3 linked regions of the Homo sapiens genome follow. The protein of the gene in region 1 purifies or fractionates together with the protein of each later gene. This does not show direct contact. Each region holds a gene or a part of one and is shown in the gene's direction. Other genes may lie near its edges. The genes, in order: MFN2, SLC25A38 and NCEH1.

Region 1 (2,718 bases):
ATGATGTAAGGGTGTGTGTCAAGCGTCCTTAGGATGGTGCCTGGCGGGTAGTCCTAATACTGCCTATCATCAGCTATCATGGTTACAAAAGAACCATTTCTTTGCAGGAATAAAGCCGGTTGGTTGGACAGTGAGCTCAACATGTTCACACACCAGTACCTGCAGCCCAGCAGATAGTGGGCACCTGAGGCGGAGTCTGCGTGGAGAGGGGCGGTGCTGCCAGCCCTAAGTGCCATGTGGGCTCCCCCAGGGGCACGTGTGGCTCCTGCCCCCTGGCCACTGCCAAGAGAATGAAGCACCCAGTCTCGTACCATTTTGAGCCCTCCAGCACTACTTATTTTCCCCCACCTTTGCCTGCTGTTGCTGGAAGAGCTGGCTCATACCCCCAAAGGACACTTTCAGCGACAGCTATGGACAGCATGGTACCAAGGAGTTAAGTTGAGGCTTTTTCCAGCTTTCTCTGGTTCATTTGATTGCTTGATAAGGCCTCAGGATCTCAGCATTGCACAATGCCTCATGGAAGCCTTTGAGGGTATCACACAGACACCCCCACCTTCCTCCAGCCTGTGCGCACCTGCCCTCCTTGCAGCCCAGCACACCTGCAGGTGTAAGGGACGATTGGAGTTTCTTCCCAGAGAGTCTGTCCCAGAAGGACTGTGGCTTGTGTGTGTCCATCTCGCCTGTTGGCTCAGTGCTTCATCCCATTTGCAGAGCCTCAGACACGTCTTGGTGGTGAGGCTCAGTTACCCCTGGGCTTAGGCTGAGGCGGGCCCTGTGCTGGGGGTGGTAGAAAGGATGCTGCTGAGGCAGCTGGAGGAGTGGGAGTAGCTCAGAGGGGAGGGCTGTTGGATGTATGGGGAGCTGGCAGAGCAGGTGGCAGTCACTGGGACAAGGAGGGACTTGCCTCTCTTCTCATTATTGTGTCCTTTGCTTTAGTGTCAGTCCTGGACTTGTGCAGGCCTGTTTTGTGTAGATCTGTTTTGGAAGATGGCATGGTCTAGGTGGTTGAAGGATGTAGTAGAAGGATGGATGGTGGAAGGTGGGGACGTTGGTGGCTGGCTGAGGTGCATGGGCCCCACACAGGACAGCTGGAGAATGGGCCGTCCACTTGGCCTCGTTCTGCGAGGGGCTCATGGGTCTGAGAGCCCCCACCCACTAGGCTTGATTGCATCCCTGTTGTGCCCTTTAAGAGACATGTTTCCACCCCACCCCCAACCTTGTCCCAAGTGCCCTGGACTAAATTTCCTGTGCCAGTGACTGCAGTTGGCCAAGGGACAATGTGGAAAACCCAGTGTCCATCTTTCCACCCTCCCTGATCTCCAGAACCTTCGACTGACCCCCTTGTCTTTATGCTGATGTTGAGTTTTGGGATTGTTACTGGTTGAAGTGGGGGCAGATGCCTGTCACCAAGGTGTTGACTGTGTGAGAAAAGCAGTTTGGGTGACAAATCCTGTGTGGCACAAGTTGGATCGCTTCCTAGAAATAAGCAACACCTCTCCCAAAAAGCAGCCCACAAGGCAGGGGCCCAGCAGCCCAGCCATCACTCATCTTTGAGGAAATGAGTTGGTAGCCTCTGTGCACTGTTTGGTGGCCACATCACAGGTGATGTCCTGTTCACATACCTGCTTGTATTTAAAGCCCTCAGTCTGTCCTGTTGTGTGGGGCGAAGTGATGGACTCTGCCAGGTGGACATGCTGTGGGTGGATGTTCCCGGCGTGTGCCGGGCCTGAATGGACAGGGGCCACTTCACAGCATGTCAGGGAAAATCACTGTCACACAATTCCAATGGATTTTGTGCTCTTTTTGAAAAAAAAAAATTCTTTAGCGTAAACATGAATTTTTTTTCAATGTAGCCCCTGGGGAATGAATGAAATTTTGAGCTTCTTCAATACGTAAAATTAAATTTATACCACTGAGGGAGAGACCCTTTCTGAAAGAAGTATGGCCAAAAGCACTTTAATGCTGCTGACATTGTTGTTTTTATGTTCATTTGCTGGAGCGCAAGACGTGCTGACACAGTGAGTTTTCTCTGATGTATTTAAGGTGATGTATTTGCTTGAGTTACTCCTGTATCATTGCTCATAATATTGGAAACTAAAATAAAACCTAGTTGGAAATCCTTTGTGAGATCTGTCTTTTTGGGTTCTTGTACAAACTCCTCTTTGACATGGCCAGCTGTATTCTGAAGTGACCATAACTTTGGGGAAGTTCCCACTATAATCTGGCTCCTTATTCTTGGAAGGAATTTGATACTCTCAAAAGAACAGATGGTTTAACTGATCTTTAAGGATCAGGAAATCGAGACTGATTTCTTTACAGATTTCTCTGTAACTCCAGACCATTTTTCACTTAAAAAGTAAATGACTCACTGTTCCATCCTGCTTTGCCTTCTGAGAATTTGGTTGCCACTATTCTTTTTTTTTTTTTTCTTTTTTGAGATGGAGTCACGCTCTGTCGCCCAGGCTGGAGTGCAGTGGCACGATCTCGGCTCGCTGCAAGCTCCGCCTCCCGGGTTCAAGCAGTTCTCTGCCTCAGCCTCCCAAGCAGCTGGGATTACAGGCGCCGACCACCAGGCCTGGCTAATTTTGGTATTTTAGTAGAGACAGGGTTTCATCATCTTGGCCATACTGGTCTCAAACTCCTGACCTTGTGACCCACCTGCCTCGGTCTCCCAAAGTGCTGGCATTACAGGTGTGAGCCACCGCTTTTTTTTCTTTT
Region 2 (4,153 bases), on another chromosome or scaffold:
TCAGCCTCCCGAGTAGCTGGGACTACAGGCGCCTGCCACCACACCCGGCTATATTTTTAGCAGAGACGGGATTTCACCATGTTAGCCAGGATGGTCTCGATCTCCTGACCTCGTGATCGGCTCGCCTCGGCCTCCCAAAGTGCTGGGATTACAGGCGTGAGCCACCGCACCCGGCCTGTAATTTTTTTTTTTTTTTTAATGTTTATACTTTCCTTAATCCTTTCTGGGAATAACCTCCTCTGGGACCACTTTCCTTCCTGTTCTATGTACCTCAGAAGCACAGGAATGAAGCCTGAAAAAATATTATCTTGCTCCCTAAGTCACTTTCCTTTCTGATCTAGTTCTTGGGTGATGAATGAAGGTGGAAAGTAGCGAAGGTTGCTATGAAAAGCTTGGACTTTATTACCAGGGCCACTGCATTTTCAACAGGAGTGTCAGGATCCCAGCAGTAATGCTTTTCCATGGATCAGCCAGACAGGCATAAGGGGAAGTTGGGAGACCAAAAAAGCCATTGACAGATTCCAGGTGAGCAATAAACCAGAATTTTGACCAACTAGACCAGCGCTGTCCTACAGAAATGTAATGGGAGCCACATGTTAAAGTTTAAATGTTTTACTAGCCACATTTAAAAAGAAACACATGAAGTTATTATTATTTGTTTTAGAGACGGGGTCTTGCTTTGTCGTCCACGCTGGTCTCCAACTCCTTGGCTCCCTCAAGCAATCCTCCAGACTAGGCCTCACAAAGTGCTGAGATTACAGGCCTGGGCCACTGCCCCCGGCCTGAAGTTAATTTTAATATTTCACCTAACCCAATATATCCAAAATATCATTTCAACATATAAAAATTATTGAGATTTTACCTCACCAGTCTTAGACATCCAGCGTGTGGTTTATGCATACAGTACATATCAATTCCACACTAAATTTTCAGCATTTAAAGGGAAATATGGTCCTGAAAAAAAAACAACAAAACAAAAAAACGCCTGTTTAAGGAGAAAGCATTCCACACTGCTTGTTTTAATATAATTAAAATTAATGTATCAATTAATAAATCAATAGCCCACGTTGGCTAGTGGCTGCCTTACTGGGCAGACCAGGTCTGGATTGTAAATACGTTCAGACGTTCCACGCAAAAGCAAAGTTCCCTGCAGACGCTCCATTAAGTTCTGGGTGCAAGGAAGCGCGGATCCTTCAGTTCTGGGCGTTTTCACCAGGTGGCACTCAGAACACCCTCACGTGACAAGCGTCCCACCCGGAAGCGAAATCTCCCCTTCTACAGAGTTCCTCCGGCGCTTCCTCCACCCCGGGATACACAGAACCTCATCTCCTACGGTGCTGAAGCCTGCAGCAGGGCAGGATGGGCAGGAGAGCAGAGCCGCGGAGTCTGCGGCGCGGGTGAAGAGCGGCGCGTAATTCCCGCAGCAAGATTGTTCCGCGCCCGCAGCCCCTGGACTAGCAGGATCCGAACCCCGGCGGCTGCGTGCTTATAGGCGCAGACGTCAGAGAGCCCGCGGCTTAAAGCGCGTCGCCTGGCTAGCGCCACCCCCTAGCCTTCTTCAAGGCCTCCAGGGCTGGGCCCAAGCGCCCGTCGACGGCACCCTGGGCCCAGAGGACTCGCGGGCCTCATCTCCAATGATTCAGAACTCACGTCCGTCGCTGCTGCAACCCCAAGATGTCGGAGACACGGTGGAAACGCTTATGGTGAGGGCACTGCGGGGAAGGAAGGGCAGGGGTCCGAACCGCGGGCTCGGGCCGGAGAATTCGGGGCGTTGCTAAGGCTCGGCTACCCTTTTCCGCGCCCCAGGGTGCGCTCAGGATTTAGGATGCGGCGGGAGAGGAGTCTGACTAAGGGAATTGAGAAGGGGGCAGGGAGTGAGGAGAGGCCAGGAGCTGCAGGCCAGCCCTGGGGGCAGGCGCTGTAGGGCCGATGTCCCGGTAAAGGGCGGAATTGCCGGGGCCTGGACTGGACGCGTGCCGGGGAGTGTGCCCGCGCGGCCCCCACAAGGTGCGAGTAGGCTGCCAGGTGGAAGGGCACCCGGGCAGATTTGGGACGGTCACAAGGCCTGATAATAGCGCTGACGCTGAGAAGCCGTTGATGCCGCAGCGAGCTGGCCGGGTAGCGCTGTGCGCCCGCGGGCGGCGGCCTACCTGGAGGGGCCAGTCGTGGCGGCACCCTTCCAGCCTGTTGGGACGGCGCGTGGTCCCCCAGCGACGCCACGCCTCCTCCGGCGTTCGATTGGTCATCGTGCCCGGGCCGCCGGGCCGCTATTGGTGGAGGCGGAGGCGGGGCTGGCGGCGTGGTTGCCCGGTAGGTGGAGTCGGGGTGCAACCAGTCTTTAGACGCTAAAGGCCTGAGGCCACTGCAGCTGCCGCAGCTCTCCCTCTGAGGTCTTGCGCCCGAGGTAGGGGCGGCTTTTATTTTTTTTTTTAATCCTTAAAGGCGGAGACGGCGGCGGTGGCGACTTTACGTTGACGTCTTTGAAAACCTGCTTACCTTTTTCAGGGCTCTCCAGCCCTCGCCTCCAGATGTGAATTGGACTTAGGATAGTTTTTTCAGGGCAGTAGGAATTGCTTGTGGATCCAGTTTGTACTCTTATGTGCTACTTATTTCGTGTGCGTATTATTGTTTATGCCCTCTTCTTTCTCCCCTTAAAAAGAAACTACTTTTTTATTTACCTTGAATATATTTTTGAGCTTTCTTTTCTTTTTTCTTTTTTTTTTTTTTTGAGACAGAGTCTCGCCCTGTCGCCCGCGCTGGAGTGCAGTGGCGTGATCTCGGCTCAACTGCAACCTCTGACTCCCGGGTTCAAGTATTTTTCCTGTCTCAGTCTCCCACGTTGCTGGGATTACAGGCGTGCGCCACCACGCCCGGCTAGTTTTTGTATTTTTAGTAGAGAGAGGGTTTCACCATGTTGGCCAGGCTGGTCTTGAACTCCTGACCTCAAGTGATCCGTCTGCCTCGGCCTCCTAAAGTGCTAGGATTACAAGTGTGAGCCACCGCGCTTGGCCTTGAGCTACTTTTTAAAAGTTAAGTTCACTCGCAAAGGATGTGTGCCATTCACCATTGACAAAAATCTTAAGACCATTCAGTATTACCTGTTGGGATGGTTTTTGTTGTTGTTGTTGTCTTGTTTTTGCCTATTAGAAGTTGATCTATACTGCTAGTATAAATAACATCTGCTCTGTGCTAATGGACTGGGAAAAGTACAAAGCTAAAAAAGTTATTGGCTCAATAACTTGAGCCAATAACATGTCTAATCACTGTGCTGTGAAATAAAAGACGTTAAGAAGATATTTCCTGCAATCAAGGGTGGGAAGGTCAAGGACAGCAGCAAATTTGTTTTAAAACAAATTCCACACAGCACCTGTGTGAGCACTGGGGAAGCAGCGCCTAACATAACTGCCCAGAAACTAACTGCAGGTCATTCCTATAGCCTTGCTGGAGCAAGGGGCCTGGAGAGAGGTGGGGGAGATTAACCCATCCTGGGATGAGTCATGCAGGGCCCACCGAGCCCTATCATGTGGGATTGTGCTCAAAGGGAGAGCATAAGGTTTCCTGTTAGGTGGTAAGATTCATTCCGCTGTCACTGCTGAACACCTACTGTGCACCAGGCTCCGAGGTCAGTTCTTGAGATATCACCATGAACAAGACAGGCAGGAGTTGTGACTATTCTGTCTTTGACACGCAGTCATAAGGGAGATGGGGACAGGTGTTGCTGTAGAAGCCGGAAGGAGAGGCACTGAACTTGGACATGGGGGAGTTAGGGAGCAAGACCGGTGCTAGGGCATAACAACATGTCAGAGTTTTCAGAGGTGAAAGTAAGGCGGAGTCCTCCAGTATGGCTGCAGAGTGTGTTAGTGGGAGGGTGAGAACATAGGCCAAAACGGTTAGCAGGAGCCCTGTGATACATGAAAGGCCCTGCAACCAGCAGTTTGGACTTTATCCTGAGAGGAATATGAACCAATTAAAGGGTATTGGTTTGGTTGGGTTTTTTAAAATTATAATTCAATTAGTATTAATGACAAATTTGTGGGATACTCTGTAGCTCCTAATACATTTGTCATTACTTGTATTTTTATTCCATCTTTTTTTTTGGTCTTGTTTTTAAGCTAGTAACTTCAAATTTCACAAAACATTATCTTTCATTGAA
Region 3 (3,653 bases), on another chromosome or scaffold:
GGGGAGGTGTTGGGGGACTGAGATCTGTTGAGGTAGGGGATTCATTCACATTCCCATGACAACTTCACTCTGGCATATGCTCATTATGTAGAATGGAGGGTGCATTGCCAGAACTATTTAAATTCTGTCTCACCAAGCGTGAAGATGCTCACCAGAAAGCATACCCTGAGGTCCTACTTAAACACTCAGGAGTCTCATAATCTGCTTATTAAGTTTTTTCTGCCCCTCTCTTCTGGAAGAATAAGACTAATTTTTTTCCCCCTAGGAAGCCATGACCTTTTTGGGGGTTTTGTAGGGAATAAAAAATTAAATAAGGTTCACACATTATCCATTCATAATACCTAGGTGTCTTAACTGCCTAAAGATAGATACAAGTACAGGGTTCACTCAAAACTGAGTTGTAAACATCATACCTTTCTTAGTTAAATATCTAGCAGCTTGATAGGGTGGTGATGGTAATGATGGAGAATTATTTTTTAAACTTTATTATTTATACAGTGCCTGGTAGAAATGTAACACTTATACCATTGACAGATTCAGAGTAACACATGAAGCTACTCTACAGGGTATGGTTCCTATAAAAGAAGGCATGCAAAATGAAATAATGTATTTGCTTCCTCTTCTCTAGTTTACTCAAGATGCCAGCCTAAAAAATAAGCTCAAACTACAAGCTTTAATTTATCCAGTTCTTCAAGCTTTAGATTTTAACACACCATCTTATCAGCAAAATGTGAACACCCCAATCCTGCCCCGCTATGTCATGGTGAAGTATTGGGTGGACTACTTCAAAGGCAACTATGACTTTGTGCAGGCAATGATCGTTAACAATCACACTTCACTTGATGTGGAAGAGGCTGCTGCTGTCAGGGCCCGTCTAAACTGGACATCCCTCTTGCCTGCATCCTTCACAAAGAACTACAAGCCTGTTGTACAGACCACAGGCAATGCCAGGATTGTCCAGGAGCTTCCTCAGTTGCTGGATGCCCGCTCCGCCCCACTCATTGCAGACCAGGCAGTGCTGCAGCTCCTCCCAAAGACCTACATTCTGACGTGTGAGCATGATGTCCTCAGAGACGATGGCATCATGTATGCCAAGCGTTTGGAGAGTGCCGGTGTGGAGGTGACCCTGGATCACTTTGAGGATGGCTTTCACGGATGTATGATTTTCACTAGCTGGCCCACCAACTTCTCAGTGGGAATCCGGACTAGGAATAGTTACATCAAGTGGCTAGATCAAAACCTGTAAAGGAGCAAAACTTCCAGAAGCCTCGAGCCCCTCTTGACCTCCTACACCTGCTTTGGAAAGACATGCACTTTTTAGTTGACTAATTCTTCCTCCCATTCCCCTCTACTTGCGAGTTATGGAATTTCTATTCCATAACTGAAGTCTTTATGATAACCTAATTTTTAAAAATGAATTTGACTAACTTAAGTGCAAAACATGTAAATTTGGTTCCCAGAGTGGGCCAATCTCTCTGTTCTTGTTATCTTAGCCAACTATACTGATACCTACAGCTACAGAAAGCAGGACTAGGAACTGGAAATAACTTTGGGTCCTGCCTTCATTAGGACGTTCTTTTTAGAAGCAGTTCTTCCAGCTCTGGATCATAGAGTGACCTTTAATAAGTTAAAAAAACGAGGACTCCTTAATTCTGCTAGAGTTAACCTTGAGTTCAGAGCAGTATTAAATGCGTGCACTTTCAGGTCAGTACTGGGGACCAAGTACCCTCTGGTCTTTTGTGAATGGATGGTTTTGTTTCCTATGGGAATTTTGGCAAAGGTTTTCTGGAAAGAACAAGTTTCTCAAAGGACTTTCTTCCTCTAGAATGTTCATTTTATGAGATCGCTATCTGTAAGTCCAGTTGGATTACAGGAATACTTGAAAGTTACTTTCTACCACTATTAGAAAATATGAAGTCGCATGCACTGGATATCTATATATCATTAGGTTTTTGTTGTGTTTTTGGTTATGCTGTCCCCCTTCTCCTTGGGGAGATATTTGGGAGCAAACTTATTTAGATTTAGAGTAAACTTTTCATTATAGAGCAAGTAAAAACAGACAAATGAAACAACCTAGTGTTTCACATAAAAATACTTCTGACATAAAGTACCAAGAGCAGTGTGAATATACTTGGCATAGTCAAAAAAGAAAATACATTTAATATTAGTTCAAAATTGTTAAAAATACCTTTAGAAGGTCTAGTCTATTATTGAAAACTCAATTTTTTCACTTATATGGCTTTAAAATGGAGCTATTTTGCTACAATATAATGTATTGTTTATTTTTTTAAGTTATTTAATGTTAATATACATAGCTAGACTTAAGGTTTTTCAGAAAGATGTCCATAATAAATATTAAAAACAATGGTATTTTTTAAAAAACTGCCTTAGGGTTTTAAAACCTTCCCTACAGTTATAACCACGTGTAATTTTGTGGAAATGATATAACAGCTATTAATACTACTATAACATAGGCATAAATATTTTCGTGTTTATATGCATATACAAGTTAAAATAATTAGAAACTATGACTGCGCCTAGTAAAGTCATCTAGGTTTATAGTTCAGTAGCTTAGGCAAGGCACACACTGCTCATCTCCGCTTTTTAGGGTCAGAGGAACACAAGCTCATGTTCTGAGTGAAGGGCGTACACTGGCACCTGGTGTTGCCTAGATCCCCCATCTCCTCCTTCCAGCCAGGTCTGGAAGTTTCAACAGCCCAAGCTTAACTTCATGTAAAGTCTTCACTGCCAGTGGGAACATCTTTGACACAACAAGACACTCCAATTGTGATTTGAGTTGAGGATCTCTGCCTGCCTTCCTGCCGTCCTTCCTTCTTCCCCGATCCATGCTACTTTTAGGGGCTGCGGAGAGCAGCAGCAGAGCTGAGTAATGATACAGGGCACCACGGAGAGAAAGTAGAACCATTTCACTCCTGGGAAGATGGGGTATTTCCCACTTCCAGCAACGAAATAACAAATGAAAAGTTGCATACTTATTGATGTATTGTATGAGCCAGTAGCATTTTATGTACAAAACAGAAGTCAATGCAACAGTATGTATGTGTGCCTGTGTGTGTATAAAAATAACCATTGAAGCTAACTTGCTAATGTACTTAGGCAAGCCACTTCCCATCTCTGGGCCTCGTCTTTCCTCCCTCTAAAATCAAAGAGCTGAATTATGTGATCCTTGAGGTCTCTTCCACTTATAATACCAACTGTCTTGTCAGACTGGCAAATTATATTGGCCTCTCCTTATGTGGTGGTTTTTTTGGTAGGTCATAGTTCCTTATACACAGACACCTGCATCATCGAAGGTCTTTTTTTCCTAAAAAAAAAAAATGGGATTTTAGTTCTTATTCTGTGATAACTATCCTCCTCATATAATACTATTCTTTTTGACACCATTTGAAGGAACCAATATTTGGACCTTATTTTGAGGTTGTCTGTCTCGAAGAAAAAGAAAATAAAATGTATAGGCAGGGTTCCTTCAATTGGCATTTTCCCCAGAATTGTGAGCCAAAGCCTATAGTAATTGCAGACAGCAAATGATTCCGGATCTCTAAAAGGCTCTCTCAGATGAAAAGGGAGTAAAGGAAAAAAGAGGTCAACCACTGTTTCTGATAATGTACTTGAGTTTCATTGTTCTTTTAGTT

Evidence for each region.
Region 2: the proteins of MFN2 (region 1) and SLC25A38 purify together in Homo sapiens (affinity purification with western blotting; one study listed by BioGRID). This does not show direct contact.
Region 3: the proteins of MFN2 (region 1) and NCEH1 purify together in Homo sapiens (co-immunoprecipitation; one large-scale study listed by IntAct). This does not show direct contact.

Annotation. Positions count from the first base shown.
Region 1 is NC_000001.11:12,011,389-12,014,106, forward strand, and holds the end of MFN2 (mitofusin-2), read left to right. Parts: intron 1-107; coding exon 108-177; 3' UTR 178-2,120; downstream 2,121-2,718. UniProt on the Homo sapiens protein: Mitochondrial outer membrane GTPase that mediates mitochondrial clustering and fusion. Mitochondria are highly dynamic organelles, and their morphology is determined by the equilibrium between mitochondrial fusion and fission events.
Region 2 is NC_000003.12:39,382,091-39,386,243, forward strand, and holds the start of SLC25A38 (mitochondrial glycine transporter), read left to right. Parts: upstream 1-1,279; 5' UTR 1,280-1,634; coding exon 1,635-1,703; intron 1,704-2,150; exon of another isoform or gene 2,151-2,235; intron 2,236-2,344; exon of another isoform or gene 2,345-4,153. UniProt on the Homo sapiens protein: Mitochondrial glycine transporter that imports glycine into the mitochondrial matrix.
Region 3 is NC_000003.12:172,631,068-172,634,720, reverse strand, and holds part of NCEH1 (neutral cholesterol ester hydrolase 1), read left to right. Parts: intron 1-628; coding exon 629-1,246; 3' UTR 1,247-3,653.